Linked DNA regions of Homo sapiens: region 2 is linked to region 1. Evidence: fine-mapped expression QTL. A gene starts in region 1. The other region holds a variant in brackets. All regions are shown on one strand. Distances are from middle to middle.

Region 1 (15,371 bases):
TGATATACATTCCTATGGTGAAGGTTAATTTATGAATTAGGTAAAGTAAGAGATGAACAATAACTAATAATAAAACAGAATAATTATAACAAAATGCTGCAGTAAAAGTTATGTGAATGTGGGCATTCTGTCTCGCTCTTTTACAATATCTTATTGTGGCTGGGTTTGGTGGCTCACGCCTGTCATCCCAGCAATTTGGGAGGCTGAGGCAGGTGGATCACGAGGTCAGGAGATCAAGACCATCCTGGCTAACACGGTGAAACCCCATATCTACTAAAAATACAAAAACAAAATTAGCTGGGCGTGGTGGCCGGCACCTGTAGTCCCAGCTACTCAGGAGGCTGAGGCGGGAGAATGGTGTGAACCCAGGAGACGGAGCTTGCAGTGAGCTGAGATCACGCCACTGCACTCCAGCCTGGGCAACAGGGCAACAGAGCGAGACTCCATCTCAAAAAAAAAAAAAAAAGGAAATAAATAATTTCTATATACCTATGACACATAGGCAGTGAAATTTTCCAAGTAATGCTATTTGGAATACATCTACTAAAAGATGTGCAAGATCTCACGAAAGCAGCAAAAAAAAAAAAAAAAAAAATTAAAGGCCAGGTACGGTGGCTCACGCCTGTAATCCCAGCACTTTGGGAGGCCGAGGCAGGCAGATCACTTGAAGTCAGGAGTTCGAGACCAGCCTGGCCAACATGGCGAAACCCTGTCTCTACTAAAAATACAAAATTAGCCAGGCGTGGTGGCACATGCCTGTAATCCCAGCTACTTGGGAGGCTGAGGCCAGAGATCACTTGAACCTGGGAGGTGGAGGTTGCAGTGAGCCAAGATCGTGCCCTTGCATTCCAGATGGGCAACAAGAGCGAAACTCTGTCTCAAAAAGAAAAAAAGAAAGAAAGAAAAGAGAAATTAAAGTAGACCTAAATAAATGGAGAAAATACCATATTTGAGGATTGAAAGACTCACTTTCTAAATATGGGAAATAATACATCAGGCATACGTTAATCCCTTTGACACAAAACAGAACACACAAAACTGACAAAACTTTAACAATACCAGGCCAAATGGATTTTAAGACACAAAGCATGATTATGGATAGACAATTTTCTAGGCACAATTAATATTGATAAAAGGCATGATTTTCTCAGAGGATAGAATATATTCTACCTTTATATGAAAGTTTAAAACGATTGTATCTTGGGAGGTGCTGTCTTGGAATGAAGGGTGGGGAGCTTCTGGTAGCAGGAGATGTGGTCTGAGGGCCTGGTGGGGCTGGGAGGGAGGGGTAGGCCTGTGGCTGCACAGGCAGCTGCGAGGATGCCTTAAGCCTCACACACACAGAGGGGGCGTGTGGAGGATTTTGAGAAAATAAGGGCTGTCTACGTTTTAAAAAACCATCTTAGGCTGGGCGTGGCGGCTCACACTTATAATCCCAGCACTTTTGGAGGCCAAGGCGGGCGGATCACCTGAGGTCAGGAGTTCAAGACCTGCCCAACCAACATGGCGAAACCCCGTCTCTACTACAAACACAAAAATTAACCGGGCGTGGTGGGGCGCACCTGTAGTCCCAGCTACTCGGGAGGCTGAGGCAGGAGAATGGTGCGAAGGGAGGCAGAGGTTGCAGTGAGCCGAGATTGTGCCACTGCATTCCAGCCTGGGTGAGAGTGAGACTCCATCTCAAAAAAAACACAAAAAACAAAAAACAAAAAACCAACCAACCAAACAAAAAACCATCTTAACCACATTTAAGTGTACAGGTCATTGGTACTAAGGACATTGACATTCTTGTGCAGCCATGACCACCATCCATCTCCACTGAATCCCTACGCCCATTAAGCACTAACTCCCCCTCCCCGTCCCCAGCCCCTGGCACCCACCATTCTACCTTCTCTCTCTATGAATTTGACTCTCTGGGGACCTCATATAAGTGGAATCACATTTGTCCTTTTGTGACTGGCTGATTTCACGTAGCATACTGTCCACAAGGCGCATCCCCGTTGCAGCCTGTGTCAGACTTTTCTGCCTTTTTAAGGCTGAATAAATCCGTTGGATGTAAATACCACATTTTGCTTATCTAGTCATCTGTAGGTGGACACGTGGATGGCTTCCACCTTGATATGGGCTGAACTAAGTTTCTCCAAAATTTGTATGTCAAAGCCCCACCCCACAGTCCTCAGAATGAAACTGTATTTGGAGATTAGGTCATTAAAGACACGTGATGGCTATTAGGGTGTGCCCTAATCCATGACAACTCGTGTCCTTATAGGAGGAAGAGACCCCGGGGGTGTGAGGACACAGGGAGAAGGCGCGTCTGCAAAAGCCAAAAGAGAGGCCTCTAAGCCACCAGCCCTGCCTCACCCTCACCTCGGGCTTCAGCCCCAAGACTGTGAGAAAAGAAAGTTCTGCCATCTAAGCCCCGCAGGCCGTGGTACTTTTTTTTTTCTTGGAGATGGAGTTTTGCTCTTGCTGCCCAGGCTGGAGTGCAATGGCGCGACCTCGGTTCACCGCTACCTCCGCCTTTTGGGTTCAAGCGATTCTCCTGCCTCAGCCTCCCGAGTAGCTGGAATTACAGGCATGTGCCACCACGCCTGGCTAATTTTGTATTTTTAGTTTCTCCATGTTGATCAGGCTGGTCTCGAACTCCCGACCTCAGGTGATCCACCCGCCTTGGCCTCCCAAAGTGCTGGGATTACAGGCATGAGCCACTGTGCCTGGCCCAGGCTGTGGTACTTCTTATGACAGTCCCAGCAGACGAATGCACGCCTTCCAGCTACAGTGAATGACATTGCGGGTGTACAGATATCTCCCCGGGGCCCCCATCCCGTGCTCGTGGGCGCTCACCCAGGGAAGACATACTGGCTTTTACGGGAACTCTGTGCTGAATTCTCTGAGGAACTGCTGTTTTCCTTAGCAGCTGTACCATTTTACACTCCCTCCAGCAATGCACAAGTGAGCCAGTTTCCGCTCATCCTCATCAACACTTGTGATTTTTTTTAAGTAGTAGCCATCCTAGTGGGAGGAGGTTAGGGTCTCTCTGGTGCTGAGGGGACAGCAGGGTGGGCGGGGTGGGTGCTGGGAGCCCGGCTGGTGCTGGTGCAATCCCCTGGAGTCGGTGGTAGCTCCGGGCAGACAGAGGCAGTGGGTTGGGGGTGGATCAAAGAGATTTTGAAGGTACAAAAGGGGTGGAGTGCAAGAGATAAGAGTCAGAAATGACCTGAGTTGTGGCTGAACAGCTGGAGGATGGTGGAGGGGACTGGAGCAGGAGGGAGGGGGCAGCCCTGTCCACTCTCCAGAGCCCTTCCGGCCCCACCCCATCAGTAGGGAGCCCCCTTTCCTGCTGTTCTTCCCACTGTGGTTTGCTCACCCCGAGGCCCTCACCCCAGTGCCCCATCCCCAAGCAACTGGCCCCAGAGTGGCTACTGAGGAGGCTACCCCAGCCTGCTGCCCCTGGGGGCACCCCCGTGGTGTCCCCACCCTCAGGACCAACACGGGTGTGGTACAGGTGCTGGGAGGGGCTCACCGATCCGGGGCTTGGCAGGACTCCCAGCTCTGCAGGCGGCCGCTTGCTGTCCACCTGGCTGGAAGGCATGGAGGATGGAGAAGCATATCAGCATCAGCATCTGCCCTCGACAACTACACCCACCCCGCCCCACCCTGAAGCCGTCCTCGCCTCCAACCCGTCCCCGCCCTGCCCCAGAACACTCAGGACCACAGAAGAATGTTCGGCGGGTGGGTAGGGGGTGGAGGGGGAAGCCCCTCTGCTGTGTGGGGGCACAGGATGCGCAGGCGCGGGGAGCGGCAGGCAGGGCCAGAGGGCACCACCAGCCCTGGGCCTCCAGCCGGCTCCCCTCCTCCTTGGGCCAGGCCCATGGCAAGGGTCAGGTTGGCGGGAAGCATGGCCAGGACCAGGGGTGCCTGCCTTGCTGGCCTCCAGGGGCAGAGGGGAGCCGGACTGCTCCCAAAGGGGCCCTGAGGACAGAGTTGGCCATGGCGACCGAGAGTGTCTGGATGCTTGAGGTGAGAGGCCCTGTGCCCTCCCTGGAGGCTCATCTCAGCTGTGCTTGGGGCGGCAGGAAGGGGTCCCGTGTCCACCCGCAGGCTGCTGGGGCAGACGTGTGGCCCAGGAGAACCAGGAAGAGGGCCCTCCACGGCCAGGGCCTCCCGCATGGCCTTGAAGGCCCGGGACCCAGCCTCTCCCCACAGGCTCACAGCGCATCCATGGCCTCCTAGTGACAAGGTGGAGCCCTACAGATGGCCCTGGGTGCTGCTGTGGCCCTGCACTGACTGGGACTGACACCACAGGGAGGGCCCCGCCCTGGTCTTGCCTTTGCCTGGCCAGGCCCCCCTTACCCTCCTGGAGCTCCTGTCTGAACATCAGTGGGTTCTGCTCGGTTCTCCACAGCCAGGCCAGGCCAGGAGAGCGGTGATCTGACTGTGTGTGTTGAGGACTGGGTGGCGAGGGCTTGGGGGTTGCCGGGGGATGCAGGAGAAACACGGTGATGCCCATCCACCCCCAGAGGCTCTGGGCCCAGGGTGGGGGCATAGACCCAGGCAGGGGAGGACCTCTCAAGTCGCACCACAGTCTCCTGGGTGCTGTTACCTCCGAGGCGTGGGCTGTGCTCCCGTAAGAGCCCCTCTTCTCTGCCTCAGGGGGGCTCACATCGATCAGGACGGTGCTGTCCTCTTCCTGGGCCCGTCGCCGCAGCATCCTGCTCCTGCACCCAGCAAGGCCGGGTGGGGATGGGGGTCAGAGAGGGGATGGGTGAGACCCGTTCCTGGGGCCACCACACTGCCTGCAGTGAGCTCACTTTACAGACTCGACTCGGAGTAGAATGGGGCTGGGCTGGCTCGGCAGACTCTCCTGGCCATGAGCACATGGAGAACCCCCTAGCCAGCCACGAGCTCCAGGAAGAAACCAGTGCCGGGGCGGGAGCGTCTGGCAGGCCTGGCACAGCAGGCGTCTGTCTGTCCATCCAGTGAGTGCCCGTGTCCCCCAGCCCTGAATGCCGTCCACTCTGCCTGGGTACTCAGTGGAGCCTGAGAAGGCCCAGAAAGGTGGGCCTGGAGTACAGACACCTCTCCCTCTCTTATCCGTAGGGTGGAGCCATGTGAGCCAGGGACAGGAAACCCCTCAAGTCGCCTGCCTTCGCTCATGGCCTGAGGACCCAGTGCCAGGACCCATAGGCCCTGAGCTCCCCAGCAAGGCGGGCCTGATGGAGCCCGGCCTCACAACTCTTGGGGGTCCCAGCTTCCTCCCGCACCTTCGCCCCGGGGGTCTCTCTCTGTGGGAGGACAGGTGCCGTGGCTCCTAGTCTTGGGCTGGCAAAACGGGGCCAGGAGCACGACATCTGTGGCCCTGGAAGGAGAGGGTTCGAGCTGGGGCTGGCATTTGGAGCTGCGACGATGACCGGAGGGTGTGACCATGGAGGCGCCGCAGGAGGTCGGAGGGGCAGCCTTCTAGTTCTACCCTTCACTTCACATTAGCGGAGGCCCAGAGGGACAGAGACTGAGCCTGGGCCGCCTGCACCTGCCTAACCCTGAAGCCCGAGCCAGGTCTCAGTGTTAGGACTCGGCCCCGGCCCCAGGCTGGGAGCCTCACTACGGACTGTGGGGTGTTCCTGGAGGAAAGTCCCCGAGGAGTTTCGGCCACCCAGCAGCCCCTCATGCCCCCATCCTTCTGTGGTGGGCAGGCGGGCCCCTCCTCAGAGCTCTCTGCAGAAAGAATGGGGATGCCCCCCACCCCAACGAAGGGACCTGCTCCATGGGGGAGCCCCTGGGCAGGCAGGAAGCCAACCCCAGCTGGGTGTACCCCGTCCAGAGCCGCACTGAGTGTGTGTCCCTCCTCGTGCCCCAAGGGGCTTTGGGGACCAGGGCGGGCCCTGGCACTGCCTCCCCACAGGCCAGGGTGTGTGAAAGTCCCGGTGGGCTGGGGTGCCGCCCTGCCTCCCTAGAGTCCAACGCTCCACCTTCTCCCTGTGGCCCACACGTCTAGGCTGGGTCCCCACCTGGCACAGTGGCTTCCGGAAGAGGTCTCGGAGGTCATGGCCCACCTCTCAGCGTGAGCCTGGTCTCGGCAGTAGAGTCCCGTCCTCACTGCGGGACAGAGGGTGGGGAGGGGTGGCCCTTGGAGCCCCGCCCAGGCAGTGGCAGCCATTCGCATGCCCTCACCTTGCCTGCAAGTGGGCCAGGAAGCAGGCAGGGGAGGTGCCCAGCACAGCTGGCCAGGGCAAGGCTTCCCGGCTCCTGGAGCAGGATCTATCTTTGTTTAAATAGGGGGTGTGGGGCTCAGAGCTGCAGACAGAGGCAGCCCACTTGGCTGGGCTTTCACACACCCGCATGCAAATGCTGCCGTCCTCCTGGGAACCTTATTTGCTTAGAGATTTCAGGGCTGGCATCAGCTGTCATAGTTGCTGCCTTGGAGGGTCTCGAGGAGGTGGGATTCCACAGGAACAGCCACAAGTGCCACCTCTGCTGGAAGCCTTGCCAGGCAGACCTCGTAAGCTCTGTTTATGTGGGGGGAAACTGAGGCTCCTTGAGGTTACGTAGCATGTGCTGAGTGGTGGGCCAGGGTTTCACCCGGGGGCTGGGGAGATTGGGAGACCCAGATCACACTGCTGGCTCTGCTAATGCCTGAGGGGTGACCTCAGGCACATCCCATGCTCAGGGCCCCATCTGCAAAAGGACAGGAGGGGTCCTAGCCTTCCTCCCATCCTTTCCGCCCTCCTCCTCGTCCTCATTCTCCTCCTAGCCCTCCTCTTTCTCCTCCTAGCCCTCCTCCCCCTCCTCCTTTCTCCCCCTCCTCCTATCCTTTCTCCCCACCTTCCCTCTCCTCCTTCTCCTCCTATTGTTTCTCCCCCCTACTCCTCCCTCTCCTTCTCCTCCTATCCGTTCTCCCCTCTCCCTCTCCTCCTATCATTTCTCCCCCCAACTCCTCCTCCTCCTCCTCTTTCTCCCCACTCCCCCTCCTCCTATCGTTTCTCCCCCTCCCCCCCACTTCTCCCTCTCCTCTTCCTTCTCCTCCTTTCTCCCCACTCCCCTCCTCCTGTTTCTCCCCCTCCCCCCACTTCTCCCTCTCCTCCTCCTTCTCCTCCTATCCTTTCTCCCCGCCCCTCCTCTTCCCCTCTCCCTCCCCCTCCCCCTTTCCTCCTTGGTGCCTGGCAGTGTCTGAGAACCTACCACCCGTGCTCCTCGCCCTCCATGCACAACTGCACTGGGGAGCCCCAAGCTCAGCTTGCTGTTCCAGGTGCCCCCTTCTGCCTGTTGAAATCCCTCCAGGCGGACCCTCATCCTGGCTGCAGCTTTCCCTTATACCTATGCCCCTCTGTGCTTGGCACCTCCCAAGGGGCCCTGTTCTTGGACCTGTGTTGTGCCTCGGAACAGCGGGAAGGCCCTGCAGGCCGGGTTCCCTGTCAGCACCAGCAGAGCCTGGGCGGCAGGACCTTGGGGCCCTGGGCCTCAGGGCATCTGCATGAGAGGTCTCTGCTTGGCCAAGCTCAGCCTGCAGGCGCCTGAGGTGGATCCCTGGACGAGGGCTGGACTGGGGAAGTGCTCCAGAAACCAGGAAAGGAGTCGGGAGGCAGGAGGGGAGGGAGGATGAGCGGGGCACCATCTCCCCAAGACCTGTGGAGGGTGGCCTCAGCCTGCCATGGGCACTCTGCAGGGGAGGCAAGACGAAGCGTTTCCTCACCTGGATGCAACTGTAGGCTCTTACTCTGCTCAGTCATTGGCCAAGGACCCTCCCAGGAAGACATGCCACCTCCCAGGAGCTCCTGGCTCTCTGCTCTTGGTGACAAAGTGGCTCTGGTGGCCTCAGGGCTGTCTACTCAAGAGCTTCAGGGCCGGCTGCTGGAGGTGACCACACCCCAGTGGGAGCCCTTTCAGCGACAGTGCACGCACAACACCTAAAGGGGGTTCGGCCCTGAGGAGTGTCTTTCCATTTTTACTTCATACAACTCTGTTTGGGTGGGTGGTTTTTTCAAGTTGTGTTACTTCTGAGGGAAAGGAAGGAAGGGAGGGAGGGAGAAAAGCCGCAACCAGCACAGGGGGCCCGCCAGGTTCCAGGCCTTGGGAAGAGCCCAGGCCCAGAATCTGCTGCACCATCTTTCTTTGGCTGTAACATTTTTTTTTTTGAGACGGAGTCTCGCTCTGTCGCCCAGGCTGGAGTGCAATGGCGCCATCTCGGCTCACTGCAAGCTCTGCCTCCCGGGTTCATGCCATTCTCCTGGCTCAGCCTCCGGAGTAGCTGGGACTACAGGCGCCCGCCACCACGCCCGGCTAATTTTTTATATTTTTAGTAGAGACGGGGTTTCACCTTGTTAGCCAGGATGGTCTTGATCTCCTGACCTCGTGATCCGCCCGCCTCGGCCTCCCAAAGTGCTGGGATTCCAGGCGTGAGCCACCGTGCCCGGCTGGCTGTAACATTTATGGACATACTTAGGGTGTAGTTAGTGGAGGTGGAAGTGGTGGTGAAGAGCCCACACTGAAGTTCAGCCTCTTTCTGAGGCTCCTTCTGAGGCTGGAGGCGCGTGCAGGGCTCCCTCCATGAGGACCCTGGCACTGCGCCCCAGCCACATGGGAGCCCTGCTGGACGGACGGTGGCTGGGTCGCAGGGGACAGACTCTTGGATGCCTGCACTGCCCGCTTTCTAACCTTCCTGTCTGCAGGTGCAGCCAGCAGCCCAGCTTCCTGTGAGCGGCGGCTCCACACAGGCCACTGGCCCCTGGTGTCTGAGTTGCCCACTCTGGCCCTTGGCCTGCGTTTCCGTCAGGATTCCTGTCTCCTTTATTTGATGTGTGGGAGTTCTAAATGGTAAGCCTTGCCAGTTTTAAAAGCTGCAAACGCCTTCTCTTAATCTACTGTTGCCATTATTCAGGTATTATTCATTATTTTTGTTCTATGTAAAATTTTATGTAAATAAACCCATCAAAATCTTGTCTTACAGTTGTGTTTGTGGAGTTTTTTTTTCGAGATAGAGTCTTGCTCTGTTGGCCAGGCTGGGGTGCAATGGCGCAATCTCAGCTCACTGCAACCTCCACCTCCTGGGTTCAAGCAATTCTCTTGCTTCAGCCTCCTCGAGTAGCTGGGATTACAGGTGCCTGCCACCATGCCCGGCTAATTTTTTGTATTTTTAGTAGAGACGGGGTTTCACTATGTTGGCCAGGCTGGTCTCGAACTCCTGACCTTGTGATCTGCCCACCTCGGCCTCCCAAAGTGCTGGGATTACAGGCATGAGCCACCGCACCCGGCCTTGGGGAGTTTTCTCTACTGCTAGCTCACATATCCGCCTTCCCACATTCTTTTTTCTTTTTTGGGGGTGTGAGACAGGGTCTCACTCTGTCGCCCAGGCTGGAGTGCTAGTGGCGAGATCTCAGTTCACTGCAACCTCTGCCTCCCGGGTTCAAGCGATTCTGCCACCTTAGCCTCCCGAGTAGCTGGGACTACAGGTGGCTGCCACCACGCCCGGCTAAGTTTTGTGTTTTTTTAAAGTAGAGATGGGTTTTCACCGTGTTACCCAGGCTGGTTTTGAACTCCTGAGGTCAAGCAATCCACTCGCCTTGACCTCCGAAAGTGCTACGATTACAGGCACGAGCCACCATGCCCAGTCTCCCACATTATTTTCTACTGATTTCCTATTTCACCACCGCCCATGAATCACCAATTGCTCTGGAGCCTATCCTGTGTGTGATGCCAGGGAGGGGCAGTGTTCATTTTTCCACATAGTGCACTCTGCCAACATCATGAGGACACTGTCCACCCCTCCCCGACCCCCGGACACTTTTCCCAGTCCCCGAGTCCCCTGGGTTCCTGCTGAGGTGTCCCTGTCTTGGTGCTGTTAGGTCAGGCCTCCCCCCACACTCTCACTGTGGGTTTGCAGCACTCAGGATCTGGTAGGAAAGCGTCTCTCCCAGCTCTTTTTCAAAATGAATTGAATCACAATGTTGACTTTTTTCTTCCATATACATTTTAGAATTTGTCGGGCACGGTAGCTCATGCCTATAATCCCAGCTTTTAGGAAGGCAGAGGTGGGAGGACAGCTTGAGCCTAGGAGTTTGAGACTTGCCTGGGCAATATAGCAAGACCCTGTTCGCCAAAAAAGGAAAAAGAAAAAGCCGGGCACGGTGGCTCACTCCTGTAATCCCAGCACTTTGGGAGGCAGAGGCAGGTGGATCATGAGGTCAAGAGATCAAGACCATCCTGGCCAACATGGTGAAACCCCGTCTCTTCTAAAAATATAAAAATTAGCTGGGTGTGGTGGCATGTGCCTGTAGTCCTACCTACTCAGGAGGCTGAGGCGGGAGAATCGCTTGAGCCCGGGACGCGGAGTTTGCAGTGAGCACAGATCGCGCCACTGCACTCCAGCCTAGCGACAGAGCGAGACTCTGTCTCAGAAAAAAAAGGAAAAAAAATTAAATTTTAGAATTTAATGTGTCTCAAAAAATCAAATGGTGGCTGGGTGCGGTGGCTCACCCCTGTAATTCCGGCATTTTGGGAGGCTGAGGTGGGCGAATCACCTGAGGTCAGGAGTTTGGGACCAGCCCGGCAACATGGCAAAACCCCATCTCTACTAAAAATACAAAAATCAGCTGGGTGTGGTGGCGGGTGCCTGTAATCCCAGCTACTAGGGAGGGTGAGGCAGGAGAATCGCTTGAACCTGGGAGGTGGTGGCTGCAGTGAGCTGAGATTGCGCCATTGCACTCCAGCCTGGGTGACAGAGAATGACTCCTTAAAAAAAAAAAAAATCAAATGGCATTTTGATTAGGATTGTGCTGGATTTAGCATACCTTTCCTCATCACTTCCACATTTTTTGTATGTTTGTAAAAATGTCTGTTAAAGAACAGATGGCTGGGTATTAATTTGGAGCCTTTTAAAACTTGAGACAGGGTCTCCCTCTGTCACCCAGGCTGGAGTGGGTACAATCATGGCTCACTGCAGCCTCGCCCACATTGGACAGTACGGTTCTAGAGTCCTGGTTCCTCAAGTAGACGGTTCTAGAGTCTAGAGTCCCGGAGGCAGAAGGGACCTTGGTGACCACATGATGTGGCCCTCATTCTGCAGGAGGAGAAATCTGAGACCCTGGGAGGTGACGATGCCCTGGTAGCATTAAATCCAGACTTCGGGTGTCTGTCAATGTACATTTTATATTAAAAAAGCCAAAATAACAATGGGGTGAGAACAGGAGGCCACTATACCAGTGGCCAAGAGTTCAGATCCTTGGAGGCCGTCTTTGGAGAGGCTCAATGGGACTCGTATTCTGGCAGCAGCACAGCACCGTGTGGGACACAGGACACCCTCCCCACACCTGAGCTTTCACCCACAGGCAAGGGATGTGGCGAGAACTGACGGGCACACGTGAAAACAGTCAGCCCTGCCCGGCGCTCTTTGAAGGAGAGCTCTAAGGAACACAAGCACACAGGGCTGAGTCAGCTTTTACCCAGCTTTTTTAACTTACCTAATTTTTAAAAAATTGAAAATGGCTGGGTTAAAAGACTAAAAAACCTCGGTTGTTGCAGGTCAAGACTGCCTGAACCCTGCACACCAGGACTAGGGCCAGCTAGGCCAGCCCCCGAATGCCACTCGGACAGCACGTGAATGCCTGTAAAGCACTCTCAGGCCCTGTGTTTCACACGACTCAGGTAGGGACTGTGACTGCCTTCTGAGAGAAGGAAACAGGGATTTCTAGCGAATGAACGCAACGTGTCTTATGTTCTCTCTGTGGCTACAATAACTGTCAACAATCACCCAGGAGGACAGTGTGGCAAGATTTAATTGCAACGGCATCTGAAAATGGTGTGTGACGTCGCGCGCGCCAGCTATCGTCAGTGCCTTTATTGCCATTGGGTTTGTGACTGTTGATATAGTGACGACCTCAGGAGCAACAGGTGGGTTAAAAACCCGTGGCTGGGCAGTTCTTCCGAGGAGAGGGACCACATGAGGAGCCAAGAAGGACTCAGAACCTGACGAACGTGGCATCGATCTGCCGCACGGAGGGGAGGGCGAGCATGACCTTCCGCCGGTACTGGGGGTCCTTCTGCAAGGGGTTCCGCTCCAGGTACACTGTCTCCAGGCTCCTGGCTCCCTTCAGCTCGTCGAGGTCGCTCCAGCTCTCAAGGAGATTGTCGTTCATCTGGGGACACACACAGCAGAAAAGCCTTTAGAACCAAACAGCCCAGCCCTCGACTCTGGTGGGGTCCACTAGCCACCCTCCTCCTTCCCACTCAGAAGATGGCGAGCAGGTGTGGGTCTTCCCTGGCACCTCATGGGACCTTCCATGGCCTCTTGGTGCATCCTGGCCACCTTCAGCTGCATCCCAAGTACAAGTTACCTGTCCATAGCCAACCCTGGGCCAGTCACTATGACGGGGCCAAGTCCACATTCAGGTCAGCAGAGGAAGGACAAAGCAGTTCTGGCCACCTGCCTGCTACACTTGTCCATAGGCAAGTGTCAAAGCAGGGTGGGCTGCACTTTCTACAAACCAGTTCTCAGCCATCATTCCCAAGGCTGCACTCTGCGCCATCACTGTGACACAGCAGACAGAGGCCGCTCTACTTAAAACTCTCAACTCTTCTGTAAATTACCTCTATGGCTCTCTCCACAAGGAAGTCCCAGCTGCTGCTTTCACCCAATACCAAGTGCAGGGACACAAATCGTGAGCAGGTGGGATTCAGAGGTCTGAGTTGCAGGCTACATTTTACCATCTTGGCCCTGCCATGCCCAGTTGGAGGGACCTGCCTTTGGCAGGAAGAGTTCTCTTGCATTTTTTTTTTTTTTGAGACAGAGTCTCGCTCTGTCGCCCAGGCTGGAGTGCAGTGGTGCCATCTCCAGAACAAGGGGAGCCAGTCCAGCTTCAAACCCTGTTGGTCTGACCCTCCCTTTCAAACACCCTGTGTGTAGAAATCACATGTTCAGAGCTGCCCGGCCTCAGGGCCTGCCAGGCAAACCGCGGTGGCAAGAGCACGGGCACTGCTCCTGAAGAGGCAGCTGGACTTGACTGTGAACCTACAATGGGCACAGGCAGGGGCACTCGTTATAGGGTGACAGACTTCGACTCCTTTTACAGGGAAGTTAGGAAGGGAACTGTCCATGTGGAACGGAAGGCAAGCAGGGGCGTTCTACTCTGGGGCCCACACTGCCCACTGCCCTGCCCACAGCTGTGGTCCGACTGGGGGGTCCCTGCATGGACTTCTGGACCTCTGCTCTGCACAGCTCCCCTTCTCTCTGGGGCCCTGTCTGGCACACTCTAGCTGCCAGAGATGTTGATCTCTGCCTCTTCCACTCAGAAGTACTGTGTTCTGCTTGGGAAACATCCCAGGTAAGGAGTGGGGTGATCACGGGGCTCGCGCTGGAACTCCCTCCTCAGAGCCTGCAGGTGCGTGCTGCCTGCTGTCCACTGCCTGAATAGAGTTGTTTCATATTTTTCTATCTGTCTGTGGCAGGAGGGCTAGTTTTGCACCAGGTCCACTGTCACAGCCAGGCTGTCTTTAGTAACTTACCGTGTGTCAGGGGCTTCCCAGAGAGGAATATAACGTGCATCTCACAGGTTTGCCTGTTTGAGGAACCCTATTTTCTTTTTTTTGAGAGGGAGTCTCGCTCTGTCGCCCAGGCTGGAGTGCAATGGGGCAATCTCTGCTCACTGCAACTTCCGCCTCCTGGGTTCAAGCGATTCTCCCACCTCAGCCTCCCAAGTAGCTGGGATTACAGGCACTCGCCATCATGCTCGGCTAATTTTTGTATTTTTGTAGAGATGGGGTTTCACCACGTTGGCCAGCCTGGTCTTGAACTCCTGACCTCAAGTGATCCACCCGCCTCAGCCTCCCAAAGTGCTGGGATTACAGGCGTGAGCCACTGCGCCTGGCCTGAGGGACCCTATTTTCACAGAACCTTTTGTGGGACTAGTGCGTACCAGCCTTGGGAAACCAAGAATTCCAAATCCTAGAGCTTAGCCCTTGAAGAGGGACTGACACCTGCTGGGAGGAGCTGCACCACCAGGGCTGGTGCCCTGCTGCTGCTGTCCCGACCAGTGCCTCCATGTGGACGGGACGTGAGCGTACCTTCTTAAATGCTACTCTGTTACTACACTCGCACCGCCCCGCTGGTTGTGTGGCCAGTGCAGAGCCTGCAACACTAGAATTACAGGGGAAGCCATCCACCTGCCAGGCCTGTGATTGGCCGGTCACTGGTCAGTTAACAGAAAGAGCCCCTTAAAGTGGAGAGTCACGAAAATGATGCACACACACGCCTTAAACCAAGCTTGTCCAACCCACGGCCTGCAGGCTGTAAATGGCCTAGGATGGCTTTGAATGAGGCCCAACGCAAATCTGTAAGCTTAAAAACATTTTGAGATTTTTTTGCGATTTTTTCACTTTTTTTTTTTTTTTTTTTTTTAGCTCACCAGCGATCGTTAGAGTATTTTATGTGTAGCCCAAGACAATTCTTCTTTTTTCCAGTGTGGCCCAGGGAAGCCCAAAGACTGAACACCACTGCCTTAACCACTTCTACCACAAAACACACAAAAAGGACATTCATTTAATGAAAGTAGCAATATCACACTGTTTGGAAGAAGTAAGATTTTCTTGTAGCATAGTCTATTTAAAAAATGATTCAAAACACCACTGGCAGTTGACTCAGGCTTTCAGCTCTGGCGTGGGAGGTCTTCAAGCTGTGTCACCTCCTTCTTTCTCGATATGTGATGTATTTGTGTTTGTCACACACCAGATGCTTCTTGTCTCACACATCACAGCATTTTCCAATGTCATTATTAGTCTAGATGGGCGGACCATCTTTATAAATTGCAGATGTTGTAATTTTCCATAGCACTGCCAATCTCAGAGCAGTTTTCTCCAGGACTTAGTAAACCTAACACGGGGAATTCTACTCACCACCAATGGTGCATTGTAAATAATGTGTAAATAATGTGTTTGATACTGGTAACTTTCAGAGATTCTTATCTTTGCATTTTTCCAAAATGGAACTAAAAACATTCACTTGTATGAGACTCTGTCTCCATAGACATTCCAGAGGCTCCTGAATCCCAGGATGGGGCAAAGATGTTACACTCATCATGGAAAAAAGATGACCTTATGTTTCTCTTATCAAGTTCTGCACACTGGGGCTGTCAGGGAGCCTGGCTGGGGAGCGCGGGCACATTCCTTTCCCCCAGAGGGACCACTTCAGTCTCTTCTAATCTTGAGCACCTCCCATGTCCTTCTCACACTGTTTTTTAAAAACTAAAATTGGCTTCTTGAAGAACTGTCTTGTAAAGTATCCCTCACTGTCATTTAGCTTGTTCTTCTAGCTCTTACACTTCCCATAAACTCAAAGTTAGGTATGAATGCTTGGTTAGATCAGACTAAACATTTTTGGTAGGTAT
Region 2 (15,371 bases), 28 kb before region 1:
CTGTGCTTCTACGGATGACTTCAGTCTACTTACACGGTGAAAATCCGCCGATTGCTGACCTCTGTGAGATCAGCAGTTCACCTGCTCAGAGACTGTCCCTGTCCAGCAGAGCCCTCCCTCCCTATCATAAGCTACATTCAGCTTCACTTGCTATTTCAGACTTTGACATCTTCCTGTGTCTCTGTCCCATGGTAAAGATGTGACATTCCATTTTCTAATATAAAGTTACATGTTGCACTCCATGAAAACTATTACCAGGGTCAACTTTGTAGGAAAATAAAAAAAACAAAAAACCAAATATTGCAAGTTAAAAATATAGCCATTGGAAAAAAAATCCCTCAAATGAATGGAATAAACTTTTAAGTGGCCAGACACAGCAGAAGAGAGACTGGGGACTGGGAGACAGTGACGACGAGACCACCCTGCGGCAACACAGAGAGCACACTTGGGGGGAAGCAGGCCACAGCCCAGTGGGAGTTCCAGACGACAATGGACAAGCAGAGAAGCACTGCTGGAAGGAGTAAGATGGAGACATTTCCAGAACTAAACAAAGACGTAACTCTTTCAGCCGGGCGCGGTGGCTCATGCCTGTAATCCCAGCACTTTATTTATTTATTTATTTATTTATTTATTTATTTATTTATGAGACAGAGTCTCGCTCTGTTGCCCAGGCTGGAGTGCAGTGGCGTGATCTTCGCTTACTGCAACCTCCGCCTCCTGGGTTCAAGCGATTCTCCTGCCTCAGCCTCCTGAGTAGCTGGGACTACAGGCCCGTGCCACAATGCCCAGCTAATTTTTTGTATTTTTAGTCAAGACGGGGTTTCACCGTGTTAGCCAGGATGGTCTCAATCTTCTGACTTTGTGATCCACCGGCCTCGGCCTCCCACAGTGCTGGGAATACAGGCATGAGCCCCCGCGCCCGGCCATCCCAGTGCTTTAGAAGGCTGAGACAGGTGGATCACTTGAGGTCAGGAGTTCGAAACTAGCCTGGCCAACATGGTGAAACCTCCGTCTCTACTAAAAATATAAAAGAGTAGCTGGGCATGGTGGCAGGCACCTGTAATCCCAGCTACTCAGGAGGCTGAGGCAGGAGAATCGCTTGAACCTGGGAGGTGGAGGTTGCAGTGAGCCAAAATCATGCCACTGCACTCCAGCCTTGGCGACAAGAGGAAAACTCCATCTCAAAAGAAAAAAAAGAAATAATCCCTTCCCTAGGCCAAGTGCAGTGGCTCAACACTTTGGGAGGCTGAAGTGGGCAGATACCTGAGGTTCGGAGTTTGAGACCAGCCTGGCCAACATGGTGAAACCTTTGTCTCTACTAAAAATACAAAAAAAAAAAAATCATCTGGGTGTGGTAGCGCACGCCTGTAATCCCAGCTACTTGGCAGGCTGATGCACAAGAACCCAGGAGGCGGGGGTTGCAGTGAGCCCAGATCACACCACTGTACTCCAGCCTGGGTGACAGAGCAAGACTCTGTCCCAAAGAAAAAAGAGAATAGGACGGGCGTGAAAGGTGGCTCAGGCCTGTAATCCCAGCACTTTGGGAGGCCGAGGCAGGCGGATCACCTGAGGTCAGGAGTTCAAGACCAGCTTTGCCCACATGGTGAAACCTCATCTCTACTAAATATACAAAAATTAGCTGGGCATGGTGGTGGGCGCCTGTAATCCCAGCTACTTGTGAGGCTGAGGCAGGAGAATCGCTTGAACCCGGGAGGCGGAGGTTGCGTGCAGTGAGCCAAGATCGCGCCATTGCACTCCAGCCTGGGCAACAGAGCAAGACTCCGTCTCAAAAAAATAATAATAAAATAAAATAAATAAAAAAATAAAAATATCATTTTCTTTGATTTGTTTCACCAGCAGGCATCTGTAAAGGTAGTGCTTTTTTCTTTTTTTCTTTTTTTTTTCCTGAGACAGCGTCTCATTCTGTTGCCCAGGCTGGAGTGCAGTGGCGCCATCTCGGCTCACTGCAACCTCCGCCTCCCGAGTTGAAATGATCCTCCTGCCCCAGCCTCCAGAGCAGCTGAGATTACAGGCGTGAACTGCCACAGCCAGGTTTTGTTTGTTGTTCTTGTTTTTCTGAGACGGAGCCTTGCTCTGTTGCCCAGGCTGGAGTGCAGTGGCACAATCTCGGCTCACTGAAAGCTCTGCCTCCTGGATTCACGCCATTCTCCCGCCTCAGCCTCCCGAGTAGCTGGGACTACAGGCGTCCAGCACCACGCCCAGCTAATTTTTGTATTTTTAGTAGAGATGGGGTTTCACGGTGTTAACCAGGATGGTCTTGGCCTCCCAAAGTGCTGGGAACATAGGCATGAGCCACTGTGTGCAGCCTTTTTTTGTATTTTTAACAGGGATGGAGTTTCACCATGTTGGTCAGGCTGGTCTCGAACTCCTGACCTCAAATGATCCACCTGCCTCGGCCTCCCAAAGTGCTGGGATTATAAGCATGAGGTACCATGCCCAGCCAGAAAAATTCTTAAATGCTATGAATGCTTCCAATCAGAAAAGCCAAGTCACAAAAGAATAATATTTCCAAAGAACTGAGAGAAAATAACTCGACCTATACTTTTATATCCGCTATTTGAAGGACAAAAATGCATGGCAATATTATCATACATATGCGTGATACATATTTCTATGCATACATATGTGTATGCATTTCTGCATGTGAAGACCCCACTAACCACATACCTTTACTGAAAGAATTACTAAAGGATATACTTCAGCAAGAAAAAAAAGACTCGGAGAAGGCAATACATAAGAAATTACTGTAACCACAGAAGTTAACAAAATACACAAATAAATTTGATGAACAGATGACTGAAAATGTTTTTTCATGTGTGTTTTTAACAGTAAAACTAAAACTCCATGTAACAATAATAAGATGGAGAGATTGCTGCTTACTAGGTGGTAAGGCATGTGAAGATCCTAGTCATACACAGAGAGAGGAAACAAAACTGAGTTCATTCAGGCTTTGTTAGGATAATATATAGTTTAGAACGTGTGCTAGCCGGGTGTGGTGGCTTGTGCCTGTAATCCCAGTGCTTTGGGAGGCCAGGGCATTGCTTGAGGCCAGGAGTTTGAGACTAGCCTGAGTAACATAACATAGTAAGACCCCATCTCTTTAAAGAAAAAAAAAAAAAAAAAAAGCCAGGCCTGGTGGCACACGCCTGTAGTTCTGGCTTCTCGGGAAGCTGAGGTGGGAGGATTGCTTGAGCCCAGGAAGTCTAGGGTGCAGTGAGCTATAATTGTGGCAGTGCATTCTAGAATGGGATACAGAGCAAGACCCAGTCTCTAAAAAAAAAGAAAAAAGAAAAGAATGTATGCTAAACATATGAGTAACCCCTAAAATAATAGAAATATATGCCATCGGTTCCAAATAAGCAAAAGAATAATAATAAAAAAAACAACCAGAACACTTTTACCCATCCACCAGAAGTCAGGAGAGGAGGAATAAAAAAGATAAAGAATAAAAGGAAAAAGTAAGTATCCATTATGAAGAGATCACAAGTATGAATTCGTACACAACTAAAAAGCTCAAAATACATAGAGCAAAAGCAAAACCTGAGAGAGACCGATATGAAAAGACTGATAACCCTATGGTTTCGTAATTTTACTGCTGAGATTTGCTCCAACATTAGGAGACTATGATGCTTTTCAAGTTTATTGAAACACATGCAAAACTTCATTGTAACCAGATCACAAAGGAAGTCTCCACAACTGCGGGTGAAGTACATCTACCTGCTCTGCAGGTTCTATTATGGTATGAGGCCACCACTTCTCCTGTTGTCCTTCCCAGTTTCTCCCCAACCTCCCCTTTTCCCTAGTTTATAAGACAGGAGAAAAGGAAGAAAGCAAAAAGCTGGAAAGAAACAGAAGATAAATAGCTAGATGACCTTGGCGCCACCACCTGGCCCTGGCGGTTAAAATAACAATAATATTAACCCCTGACCAAAACTACTGGTGTTATGTGTGAATTCCAGACGCTGTATGAGAAAGCACCGTAAAACTTTTTGTACCGTTAGCTGATGTATGTAGCCCACAGTCACGTTCCTCACGCTTACTTGATCTATTATGACTCTTTCACGTAGACCCTTAGAGTTGTAAGCCCTTCAAAGGGCTAAGAATTTCTTTTTCGGCGAGCTCCGCTCTGAAGACACGAGTCTGCCGACGCCCCCGGCCGAATAAAAAAACCTCTTCCTTCTTTAATCCGGTGTCTGAGGAGTTCTGTCTGCGACTCGTCCTGCTACACTATGACCAACTAGCAATTCACCTAGAATCCACGATTTGCCCTCCAGCCCCGCAAAGCTCCGTCCCTTACCGCGGGGAACCTCCCCCCAGCCCCTGCCCACGGCGCCCCCAGCTCCCCCCCTCCCCCGGCCTTGCCCGGCGGCGCCCGCCCCTCCCGGCTCCCCACCGCCGCACCCCCACCCCACCCGAGCCCCGCTCCGCCTCGTCCTCGTGCGCCCGCGGCCCCCTCCACCTGGCGCGGGGCTCACCTGCACGTGCGGTTGTGCGCGGCGGCGAAGGAGGACGGGGCTCGCGCCAGCGTGAAGTTGAGGAAGCCGCGCAGGTCGTGGGCGCGGGTCCACCGGTAGTAGGCGCGCGGCAGGAAGTCGGACGAGAAGGCCAGGAGGAAGGCCTGGGCGCCGGAGGGGTCAGCGCGAGGCGGCCCCCGCTCCGCCCCTGCGCGCCCCCGCTCCGCCCCTGCGCGCCCCCGCTGCCCCCCCGCCCCGCCCCTGCGCGCCCCCGCTCCGCCCCTGCGCGCCCCCGCTGCCCCCCCCGCCCCGCCCCTGCGCGCCCCCGCTGCCCCCCGCCCCTGCCCGCCCCCGCCGCCCCCCCGCCCCGCCCCTACGAGCCCCCGATGCCCCCAGCCCCGCCCCTGCGCGCCCCCGCTGCCCCCGGCCCGCCCCTGCGCGCCCCCGCTGCCCCCCCCGCCCCCGCCCCTGCGCGCCCCCGCCCCGCCCCGCGCTCCCGCCCGGGCCTCACGTTGCTGATGACCGCCAGGTGCGTGAGGCCCGCCAGGATGTGGAACCAGATGCCGATGTCCTGGGCGCGCTCGGCCACCGGGCGCCGGTACTCGCAGACGAACTTGCGCGCGTCCAAGCGGA[T/G]CTCCACCCAGTTGTTGAGCAGGGCGAAGAGCGGCGCGAGCGGACAGGCGGCCACGAAGATGGTGACGAAGCCGAACTGCAGCACTGCGGGGAGGGGGTCACGGCCGGGCTCTCCGCCACCGTCCGCCCTCAGCCCTCGGAACGCGCCCCCCGCGGAGGACCGGCCAGTCCACGTGGTGCCGCCACCCCATCGCGGCTCATTCCGCCCCCACCTCCTGGTCTCCCTCGTCCTGGACCGCGCAGCGCCAGGGCCGCCTCTCCTGACCGGCCTCAGGCCGGCTGTCCTGCCCTGCGCTCCGTGCTTCTGGCTGGTCACGGGCCTTCTCCGGCTCGGTGAGCTCAGGAACTAACTCAGGGCAGGCGTTGGGGCAGAAACCTGCTCCTGATTTTACAACCAGCTTCTCCAGTCACCCCACAGGGGAGCTGTTAGGAGAGGGCTCTTTGGAAGGGGCTTCTGGGTCTTCGCCGAGAATTACTAGTGAGATCATTGGGGTCCAGGGTTCAGTGGAGGAGGGTCAGGGCGTCCACTCCTCGCCCTGGGAACTGGCCTGCTCCCTTTCCACAGATGCCGCGGCTACGCTGGGGAGCTCCGGGGCCTGCCGGCTCACATGCCCGCTTGCTAGGTTAAGAGCTGCCTGCCGGGCACAGTTTCTCACGCCTGTAATCCCCAGCACTTTGGGAGGCTGAGGCAGGTGGATCACCTGAGGTCAGGAGTTCGAGACCAGCCTGGCCAACACGGTGAAACTCCGCCTCTACTAAAAATACAAAATTAGCCGGGCGTGGTGGTGGGCGCCTGTAATCCCAGCTACTCGGGAGGCTGAGGCAGGAGAATTGCTTGAACCTGGGAGGTGGAGGTTGGAGTGAGCCGAGATGGCGCCACTGCACTCCAGCCTGGGCGACAGAGGGAGACTCCGTCTCAAAAAACAAAACAAAAACAAACAAACAAACTGCCTGATGATTCCTTCTCCCTTTTGTCAGCTCAGAGTCAGACCCTGCACTGCAGGGACGGCACAGGTGATACAGACCCACCCTCCAGAGTGCACCACCCGTGCAGGCAGTGAGCCCCTGGCACTGGCCACCACCTGGTAAGGTGACAGTGGTAGGTCTGCAAATAGCGTGGGCATTGAGATTTCTGGGAACATTGGCTCTCCAGGCCGCTGCCTCCCACTGTGGCTTCACCCTTGGAGGACTTCTGTCAGCCCCCAGGGCCTGCTCTCCTAATTCTTCCCTTGCTCTGGCCCATGCTTTCTAGGTCCAGGGACCCCAGGGGAGCTCTGCAACGGCCGCGGGGGCCTCCTCCCCGTGCCGGTGCCCCTCTGTCCTCAGCCAACCCTCTTGGGCACTCTCAGGGGAAAAGAATTCCTTTCTGGATTCTCCACAGGCCCGACCCTCTGTTCCCACCCCACCCCCACAGCACATTTCAGGGCAGATGCAGACACAGGAATGTCAGGCTGGGAGGCCCTTGAGCAGAGTGGCCACCCATCCCTGCCCACGGCGCCAGCCATTGCCGCAGCTGCTAACGGGCTCCTACCCATTTCCAGGTACTCGTCAAACAGACCCTCACAGGGCACAAGCTCATAGTCGTCCTCCCAGGGCCCCTGGCTAGCCCCTGCAGAAGCTCCCGCCTTCCTCTTCTTGGAGCGAAGCCGGAACTTCTGCCACCAGCCCTTTAGCTTCCTGGGGACGGGAATACAGGAAAATGGCCTTTGATCCAACATGGGTCTCAGTGGCTGCTATAGTCCTTGGGGGAGATGTGGCCGGGACAAGCCTGTTGCTTTGCAATTGAAGGGCAGCAGGGAGGGATGGGGTCTGGGGCTGAGGGGTGGACGCAGTGAGAGCCAACAGCTTTGCAGATCGGACTCAGTGAAAGCGTCTGTGTCTGTTGGTCAGATGTGGGAGGGCAGTCCACCCGCCCAGCCCCCCGCATTGTTCCTTAAGGCTTTAGGGGTAATGGGCTCCTCCCGGAATTGCAAAGCAGTGCCAAGAGCTCTGCCAAGGTTGGGAGGGAGTGGACGAGGACGACTGTGGTGTCCCAGGGAAAGCAGATGTGGAGGCCCACGTGTTGGGTTCGTCCTACACAGGGGCATGTGTGCATGTTGCCTTATCACACTGTCACTCATCCGTGCCCTGCTCCTGCCAGGCACAGAGCTCCACCCTGCACCTTATGGTCTTGTGGTTTCACAGCACCAATAGTTCCAAGAGGCAGGGCCATCTCTCGGGATGTGGCATGGCCACCATCTCCCAACTGCTATTCCTGGTGGCCCAGAAATGTCAGTGCTGATTTGGGAGCTGCCTTCTGGGGGCAGATCAGGTGTTCAGGGGGCGCTGGGAGGGCGTTCAGGTCAGTCTGGCCTTGAGCGGGAGGCGAGGCCCTGGGCAGCCTCTTTGAAGGACTCTGGCTATGGGAGCCTTGTGGTCAGGGTGTCCCTGGCAGGGGCATCTGAGGCAGACGTGTGTCTGAGGATCAACCCTGGGACCTCCTTTTCCTCCTCCCTCTTGTGCTGCGTTGGGGCCTGGGGATGCCAAGGAATACTCTGGCCCAGCCGCAGCATCTCTGAACGGACAGAGCCATCACCCCAGCCTTGGGTCCAGGAGCCCAGACCCCCTCCCCAGCCAAAGCTGGTCCCAGGGGTAGCGTCTCCCACAACTACAACCCAGAAGACCTCAGCCAGCCACAGGGCAGCTGCAGGGCGGGCAGCCCAGAGCCCGGGGCAGACGGCCGGGCACACTCCCCCTCCCCCTCCCCAGGCAAGGTGCCTTCCCTTCACCTCTTCTCCCAGCTAGGGCCGGGCTGGAGGCTGCTACTGCCAGGTGCTCTGGGGTCCCTCGGTCCTTGGATGCCACCCAGGGAGGAGTGGGGGACTCACGGGATGAGGACCTCCTGCATGTTGTTGATGACCTGCTTGCCCACCATGATGACCAGGAGCTCCTGTGCCAGCTCGATCAGGCAGCCTCCAGCCGCGCACTACGGCAGCAGGGCTCAGGTTAGCTGGGAGAGGGGGACCAGCCACTCACCCACGCATCCCTTCTTGTCTCAAAGCTGGCCCTCATCCCGGCCCCCACCTCCCTCCTGACATGCCTTGGGCACCTGGAGGGTTGCAGAGATGCTCCCACCATAACACTCCCTCCCGACCTCACAGGAGCCCCCAGGTCCAGCTGGAAGACTGCATTGGAAAGCTGCAGGGGGCACTGCTATATGTACCTAATGGCACCCCAGTTTTCCTTTGGAGACCCACAAGGGGTTACATGGGGCTGACTGTAGCCTCTGGCTTCAAGACAGACCCACGAGGCAGGCCCCACCAATCGGTGACCCAGTTCGAGCCAGTGGGAGGTGGAGTTCCTGGGAACACGTGCCTTGCAAGGGGTGCTAAGTCCGAGAGTGTCGGCCGCACTGCAGGGCACCTTCCCTCCAGATGGGGATAATCTTTCTGAGAACACAGGCAATGCTGGGAATAGCAGTGCAGCATTTTTAACACCTGGATCATTCATACCTAAGCCCGCGTAGCCCTGAGCGTTTTCAGTACAGGAGCCAAGAAAACTCCCTGCAGCCTCCACCTCCTGGGTTCAAGCAATTCTTCTGCCTCAGCCTCCCGAGTAGCTGAGACTACAGGTGCGTGCCATCACGCCTGGCCAATTTTTGCATTTTTAGTAGAGACGGGATTTCACCATATTGGCCAGGCTATTCTCGAACTCCTGACCTCATGATCCACCTGCCTTGGCCTCCCAAAGTGCTGGGATTACAGGCATGAGCCACCACGCCTGGCCGAAAACTCCCTTTTTCGTTTAAGCCAGTTTGAGTTGGGAACTTTTCCCACTTAACAATTGAGAGCCCTCTGGCTGGTCCGTTGTGGCACCCGCAGCCACACTCCCCACTCCATCCCCAGCCTTCCCTTTCCCCTCTCACATGAAATGGACACCACCCCTTTGGGGGCAGCCACTTTGCAGTTGGGCTGGCTCATGGCCCAGACCCCATGCGAAGTTTCTCTCCTCCTCCTCCTCTTCCAAAAGGAGAAGAGGTCTTTCAGGCCAGGGGTCACTCAGCAGGGGTCCACTTAGGTCCCAGCCCAGCCCAGAGGCCACCTGTGGATGGCTCCAGATGCACCCACCCTGCTGCCTGCGACCCCAGCTGCTGGGACATGCCTGGCCCTCACCCAGGAGGGGCTGTGCGTCGGGAACAGTTTTGAGGGCTTCTCTACGGTGTCTTGGAGGGGCTGTGGCACAGTGGAGACTACTTCTGGGGTGATGCACACGTCAGTTACTTGCACCAGAATCTCTGTCTTGGGGTCTGCTTTGCAGGGACCCCCGTGACAACAACGCTTCATCCTCCACCAGGTGAACTTCCATTTGCTTTCTGAAAAACCAGGTTCACGCCTGGCTCTCAGAGATACGGAGTAGCTAAGGCTCTTAGAGATACAGTCACAGGCAGAGCCCACTGTGCTGATGGGGAGAGGACAGCTGGCCACAGGGAGATCCCTGACAGCCATGGCGGCAGCACGCCAAGCCTGTGAGGAGGCCAGCCCCTGCGACCCCTGTGTGCCATGAGGAGGCCAGCCCCTGCGGGCCGTGTGCCATGAGGAGGCCAGCCCCTGCGGGCCTGTGTGCCATGAGGAGGCCAGCCCCTGCGGGCCGTGTGCCATGAGGAGGCCAGCCTCTGCGGGCCTGTGTGCCAGAGGCTCTGCGCCCACCGTAATGGCTCACACTTTTCTCAGGTGTGAATTGGGTTAAAATGGGGAAAGAGTAATACGGGCTGGGACAGCTGGGGTGGGGTAGGGTTTTTGGTTTGCTTTTTTATTAATTTTTGTGGCGATGAGGACTCACTATGTTGTCCAAGCTGGTCTCGTACTCTTGGGCTTAAGCGATCCTCCTCCCTCAGCCTCCCTAAGTGCTGAGATTACAGGCGTGAGCCACTGTGCCCGGCCTGGAGTGTTTTGGTGTGGTTCTGAATGGGGCATATCGGGGGTCAGAATAAGTGGTGAAGAGAGGCTGGGAGCCCTGAGTGGTCAGCTGCACAGCTGGCCCTGGCTGGGCGATGGAAATAGCCGGTGGTGGGAGGAATTGCTGCAAATCAAAGCTCGAATGGAAGAATGGAAGTGAGAGGAAGCACACAGCTCATCCCCCAGTCCCGGGCCTCAGGCACACTCACCTCCTCATTGCGGACTCCAAACAAGGTGTGGTAGTTGCCTGGGTATCCCACAAACCTAGGAGAAAGTCAAGATCATGAGCCTTGATGGGATCCTTCCTGTCTCCTCCCACTTCCCTGGGCTCTGGAGGCCTCAGCAGAGCTGCTGCACCTGCCCTGGAGGAAGCACGAACTGTGGCGTAGAGTCCCGGTTGTGAGCTGGGCCTCCTGTGGACCCCCGAGCTGGGTAGGGACCAAGAGGTGGGCAGCCCCTGTTTGCTCAGAGGTGCCAGGAGGCATGGGCCCCTGTCCCCTGCCTGGGTCTCCGGTTCCGTCCTCCACCTGCCTGAGCACGGCTGGATGACGCCTGGTACCCAGGCAGCGGGAAACATGAGCAGAACTAAGCCGGGACAAGCTGTGGCCAGAGGGAGAGGTGCCCACCAACCTGCCCTTGAAGAAGGCAATGTAGACGGGTGAGGAGTAGAAGTTGACGAACTGGAAGATGAACACCTTGAGGGTGAAGGCGTCCTCGAACTTGGTCTGGGTGCGGTGCATTTCTGTGGCATGGAGAGCCTGGGCTCAGTCCCTGGGGGAGTCACCAGCATCCAACTAGGGGCCCCCTCTCCTAGGACCACCTTGCCACACACGGGTGAGGAAAAGGCCATATCATCCAGATATTTAAAAGAAGGAGACAAAGTGTGACATTTCCGAAGTCACCCAAAAACATGTTGATTAACAGGAGTTGGGAAAATTGATAATACCCTATATCCCAACACTAATAATGAATGTGGTGCACACGGGTGAGTGGTCAGGGGATGGGTCAGAGAAACAGAATAGAGGCTCGGTGCCAAGGCTGCGCAGCGGACTGGGCTCCGGTGCAGGTGCCGGAGGCAGGAGCATCAAAGGCTGAAGGTTACAGGAGGGAAAGAGGGAGGCTCAACACCCCACAGCAACCCCACAGTTGCAGAAACAAATGGGTGGCTCCCCTCAGAGCCCTACCCTTGGCCATCCAGAACCAGGAACCTCTCCCTGAGACACCTGCCACCTGCAAAGGTCTTTCCCTGACACCCACCTTCCCCTGGCCACCCACCAGGAGGCACTTCCTCCTCAGCACTTAAGCCCTCTCCCATTCTCTGTAGCTGTGCAGGCAGCCAGTTCTGTCCCCTCTCCTAGAACCTGGGCTCCAGGGTGGGGCTGCCAGCTTTTGTTCAAGACTATTCACCCCCAGGGCTAGAGCAGGGCTAGTGAGAGGCAGCAGCTTATGGAATGAATAGGTTGGTCGTAAGTGTTTGTCCTCAGGAAATGAGACAGAGAAAAAGACCGATGGGAGAGGAAGGGGGAGGGAAGAACTGAGAGGTGGCTGCCCAGCCCAGCAGCCGATACCCCACACCACCCAACAGAGGCTCAGCGGCCCTATCCTAGAGGGACATCTCCCACCTGGGGGACCTTGCAGCCTGGAGGGGGGCCCTGTGGAGGGGTGAGAACTCTTTGGGTGCTGGAGTGCCCCCAGGGTCTTTTATCTCCAGGAAGGCCCTGCTCACTGCTCTTTTAAGGGGGCCTCTGGGGAGGCTCAGACAACTCCAATCTGTACCACATTTAGAAATAGGGAGCACTGGCTTCCTAACCCAGGGATTGTTTGTGTCCCACCTGGGGTGCCAAAAACAAAAAATAAGAGAAAGAAAACCAGGTGCTGTGGCTCATGCCTGTAATCCCAGCACTTTGAGAGGCCTAGGCAGGAGGATCCCTTGAGGCCAGGAGCTCGAGACCAGCCTGAGCCACACAGTGAGACCCCTGTCTCTATCAAAAAAAAAAAAAATTTCAGCTGGGCACAGTGGTCCAGGTACTGAGGAGGCTGAGGCAGGAGGATCCCTTGAGCCTGGGAGGTCAAGGCTACAGTGAGCCATGATCGTGCCAGTGCACTCCAGCTTGGGCAACAGAGTGAGATCCTGTCTCAAAAGAAAAAAGAAGAAAGAAATAGAAATGAGGGCCATGTGTGTCAGTGAGTGAGAAAGTCACGTTCTGGCTGGCGGCCGGCAGGGTGGGCCCCTGGTCAGTGCCTGGCCGGCCTCAGCCCACTCACCCCATCGTGTCAGGACGTGGGCCAGGGATACATAGATCTTGGAGAGGATGAGGATGAAGACGAGGTTCACTACAGACCCCGTGAGGCTGGCGATGCGAGAGGCCTAACGGGAGACAGGCCGTCAGAGCCGGATGAGGGGCCGCTCAGGGCCCCCCGAGGCAGGCAGCAGAGGCTCACCCAGGCTGCGAGAAGGGTGTTGCCCGACCTGGACACCACGATGGCCATGATGGCACGGTACAGGATGATAGACACGAGGCACATGACCACCACGGCCACCTGCGGGGGCAGGGAGGCCCGTGAGACCCTTCACGGTGTCTTGGGCACCCCAGCACCCTCAGGCCATGGCCCCCGACAGCTCTTCTAGTCCACTGCTGGCCCCAGCACTGCCACCTCTAGGAAGGCCCCTGCCTCCAGCCCCGGCTGTGCTCCCAGGCTATGTCCTTCCTGATGAGTTGCTCAGGCAGAGGTGGGGTGGGGTTAGAGTTAGAGGCTGGGCCACATCTGGGTGTCAAGGCAGCCACTGTGAGTGTTGGAGAGCCATCCCATCCCAGGAATTGGGGATTCCTGACATCTTGGCAGGGGAGTGAGAGGTCCTATTAGGAAGCCCCTTTGGCTGGAAGGCAAGACAGGGTGCAGTGAATGGCCCTGCTGGGGTGCCCGCCTCTCTTTTCCTTGAAACCAACCCCCTTGCTTGAAAAATGCCCCATGCCCGCACCCACGGGGAGACCCTCCCAGGCCCTCCGTATGACTCACACCTGCTCTCAGCCGGGACCCCACGGCCGAGCCCGGGCACATGGGGGCCTCTCTGCGGGGAGTGAGGGTTCTGTGCCCAGAGGAGGCATCTGGCCACGGCACCAAGGTGAGATGGGGGACAAAACCACCCCACATGGTGCAGGAGGATGGAGGCGTGAGCGGAGGGCAGGGGGACCGCATACCATCACCACGATCACCACAGAGCCGGCCAGCATGCGGCGCGCGCGGCTCCTCTCAGGGAAGTAGGGCTCGTCCTCACCCGTGATGGGGTTCGGGGCTGTCATGGGGGCTGAGGCGGCAAACTGGGGCCGAGGCCTCTCCTGGAAGGGAGCCGGTGCTCAGTGGCGGCCCTCGCCGGGTGTGACCGTGGTCCAGCGGGGGTGGCTCACCTCAGTGTCCTCGTAGTCAGAGCAGTCCCAGCGGTAGGCCAGCGTGGCGCTCTTCCGCTTCCAGTACTCCAGCAGCAGCACGGCCCACAGTGCCATGAACAAGCTGAAGAACACGGTGCCGCCGTGGTCGAACAGCCGGCCGGCCTGTGGCAGGGAGCGGGGGCGTCCAGACTTGCTTGGGACTGGAGGCCCCTTGTTCCTTCCAGTGTTCCTTCCTCCTGGAATGGGAGTGTGCATCCCACACACATCCCCCGACTGTGTATTTTTTGTTTGTTTGCTTGAGACGGAGTCTGGCTCTGTCACCCAGGCTGGAGTGCAGTGGCGCGATCTCGGCTCACTGCACGCTTCGCCTCCCGGGTTCACGCCATTCTCCTGCCTCAGCCTCCCAAGTAGCTGGGACTACAGGCGCCCGCCACCACGCCCGGCTAAATTTTTGTATTTTTAGTAGAGACGAGGTTTCACCGTGTTAGCCAGGATGGTCTCGATCTTCTGACCTTGTGATCCACCCGCCTTGGCCTCCCAAAGTGCTGGGATTACAGGCGTGAGCCACCGTGCCCAGCCCCCTGACTGTGTTTTGGAAGCACAGACCCACAGAGGGAGAGGAATTTTGCCTCAGGACGGCTCACACCCAGGTCTCACCCACACCTGACTTTGAGGATGCGATTTGGGACTTTCTGAGCTGATATTTTCATGAGGTTTTGGACCTAGAGTTAATGCTGTAAGAGGTTGAGACTTTGGAGGATGCTGGGATGAGGTGAGTGTATTTTGCACGTGGGATGGACATGAAGTTTTGGAACCAGAGGATGACCTGTAGTGAGTTGAATTCTGGCCCCCAAAAGATATGTTCGTTGGGAACCTCAGAATGTAATCTTATTTGAATAAGGGCCTTTGTAGATGTAAGGTAAGGATCTCCAGATGAGAGTACTCTGGACAAACCCTTACAAGAGGGGAGAAGAGGAACCAGCACGCAGACACAGAAGGGAAGGCCAGGTGGAGATGGAAGCAGAGATTGGAATGAGGCGGCCACAAGCCAGGGAGGACCAAGGACTGCCAGCAGCACCAGAAACCAGGAGAGAGGCCTGGGGCTGAGTCCCCAGAAGTGGCCAAGCCTGCCAACAGCTTGATTCTGGACTCTGGCCCCGGGCCTGTGAGAATAAGCTTCTGCTGTTTTAAGTCCCCATTTGTGGTCCTAGGAAACATCCAAGTGGATTCCCAGAAGTGAGGTCAAACGGCGTCTGGCCCACCAGTAGTGCCAAGGGCTCTGGGTCCAGTGCATGTGGGGTACAAGCGAGGCCCTGAGGCCCCTGGGAAGGTGGACAGACCCAGGAAGCATGCCAGGCGGGAGGGGGGACAGTGGGGCTCAGAGACTGCAGGAGCCTCCCGCCCAGGTCTTGTAAGTTGGGAATTCTGCTCAAAACCTTTGGTTTTGCCTGTGCCCTGGGGTCTCCAGGGTTTGTCCGCCTTGGAGCCAAGGGCCAGGTGCCCCCAGAGTGCCAGAGCTAGAGTCCTGGTGTGGGGTGTCCTCAAGTGGGAAGCACTAACATGGGCCACTCTGCCAAGTGCTGGGAGGTGTGTGCCGGGTGTAACCCCAGTTCCAGGCAAGAGAACAAAGGTTAAGGAGCTCATGGAGCGTTCTGCCTTTAGCTGGTGACAAGCAGGACAGGGGCTGGTGCAGGCAGAGTCAGGACCAGGACAAGGGGAGCTGCCCTCCTCATCCCCGACTCTCAAATCCCTTACCCCACCCACCTCTTCTCGTACCTGGGCCAGGGCACAGGCGCTGGAGAGCAGCCAGAAAGGGCAGTCGAGGCAAAGTGGGCACATCTCGAAGCTGTCCTTGCTGCCACACAGTTCCTGCCTGCAAGGCATGGAGCGGAGGGGTGGGAGCTAATGGGGGAGGGGGGCTGCTTGCTCCTCCCAGCCAG

Evidence for each region.
Region 2: its variant is fine-mapped to the expression of ANO7 in tibial nerve (GTEx, PIP 0.96).

Annotation. Positions count from the first base shown.
Region 1 is chr2:241,179,404-241,194,774 of GRCh38, reverse strand. It overlaps ANO7 (anoctamin 7), which reads right to left and starts at 6,098. Exons shown (of 25, transcript NM_001370694.2): 1 at 6,009-6,098; 2 at 4,604-4,718; 3 at 3,524-3,581. The coding sequence starts at 4,711. LOC105373971 (a long non-coding RNA gene) reads left to right here and starts at 6,353. Exons shown (of 3, transcript XR_924064.3): 1 at 6,353-6,499; 2 at 8,667-8,811. It overlaps PPP1R7 (protein phosphatase 1 regulatory subunit 7), which reads right to left. Exons shown (of 10, transcript NM_002712.3): 10 at 11,123-12,128. The coding sequence ends at 11,952. RefSeq lists enhancers at 3,525-4,025, 4,026-4,526, 5,460-6,143, 6,144-6,828, 8,024-8,546.
Region 2 is chr2:241,207,507-241,222,877 of GRCh38, reverse strand. ANO7 (anoctamin 7) reads right to left here. Exons shown (of 25, transcript NM_001370694.2): 11 at 15,208-15,304; 12 at 13,450-13,593; 13 at 13,243-13,380; 14 at 12,485-12,583; 15 at 12,308-12,410; 16 at 10,673-10,784; 17 at 10,252-10,306; 18 at 7,976-8,073; 19 at 6,640-6,785; 20 at 4,987-5,192; 21 at 4,497-4,639. Among named protein-coding and RNA genes, the nearest start is that of ANO7, 27 kb to the right of the region's middle. RefSeq lists enhancers at 3,842-3,941, 6,049-6,580, 9,219-9,778 and a silencer at 5,285-5,414. The variant T/G (reference allele first, on the strand shown) is at 5,109.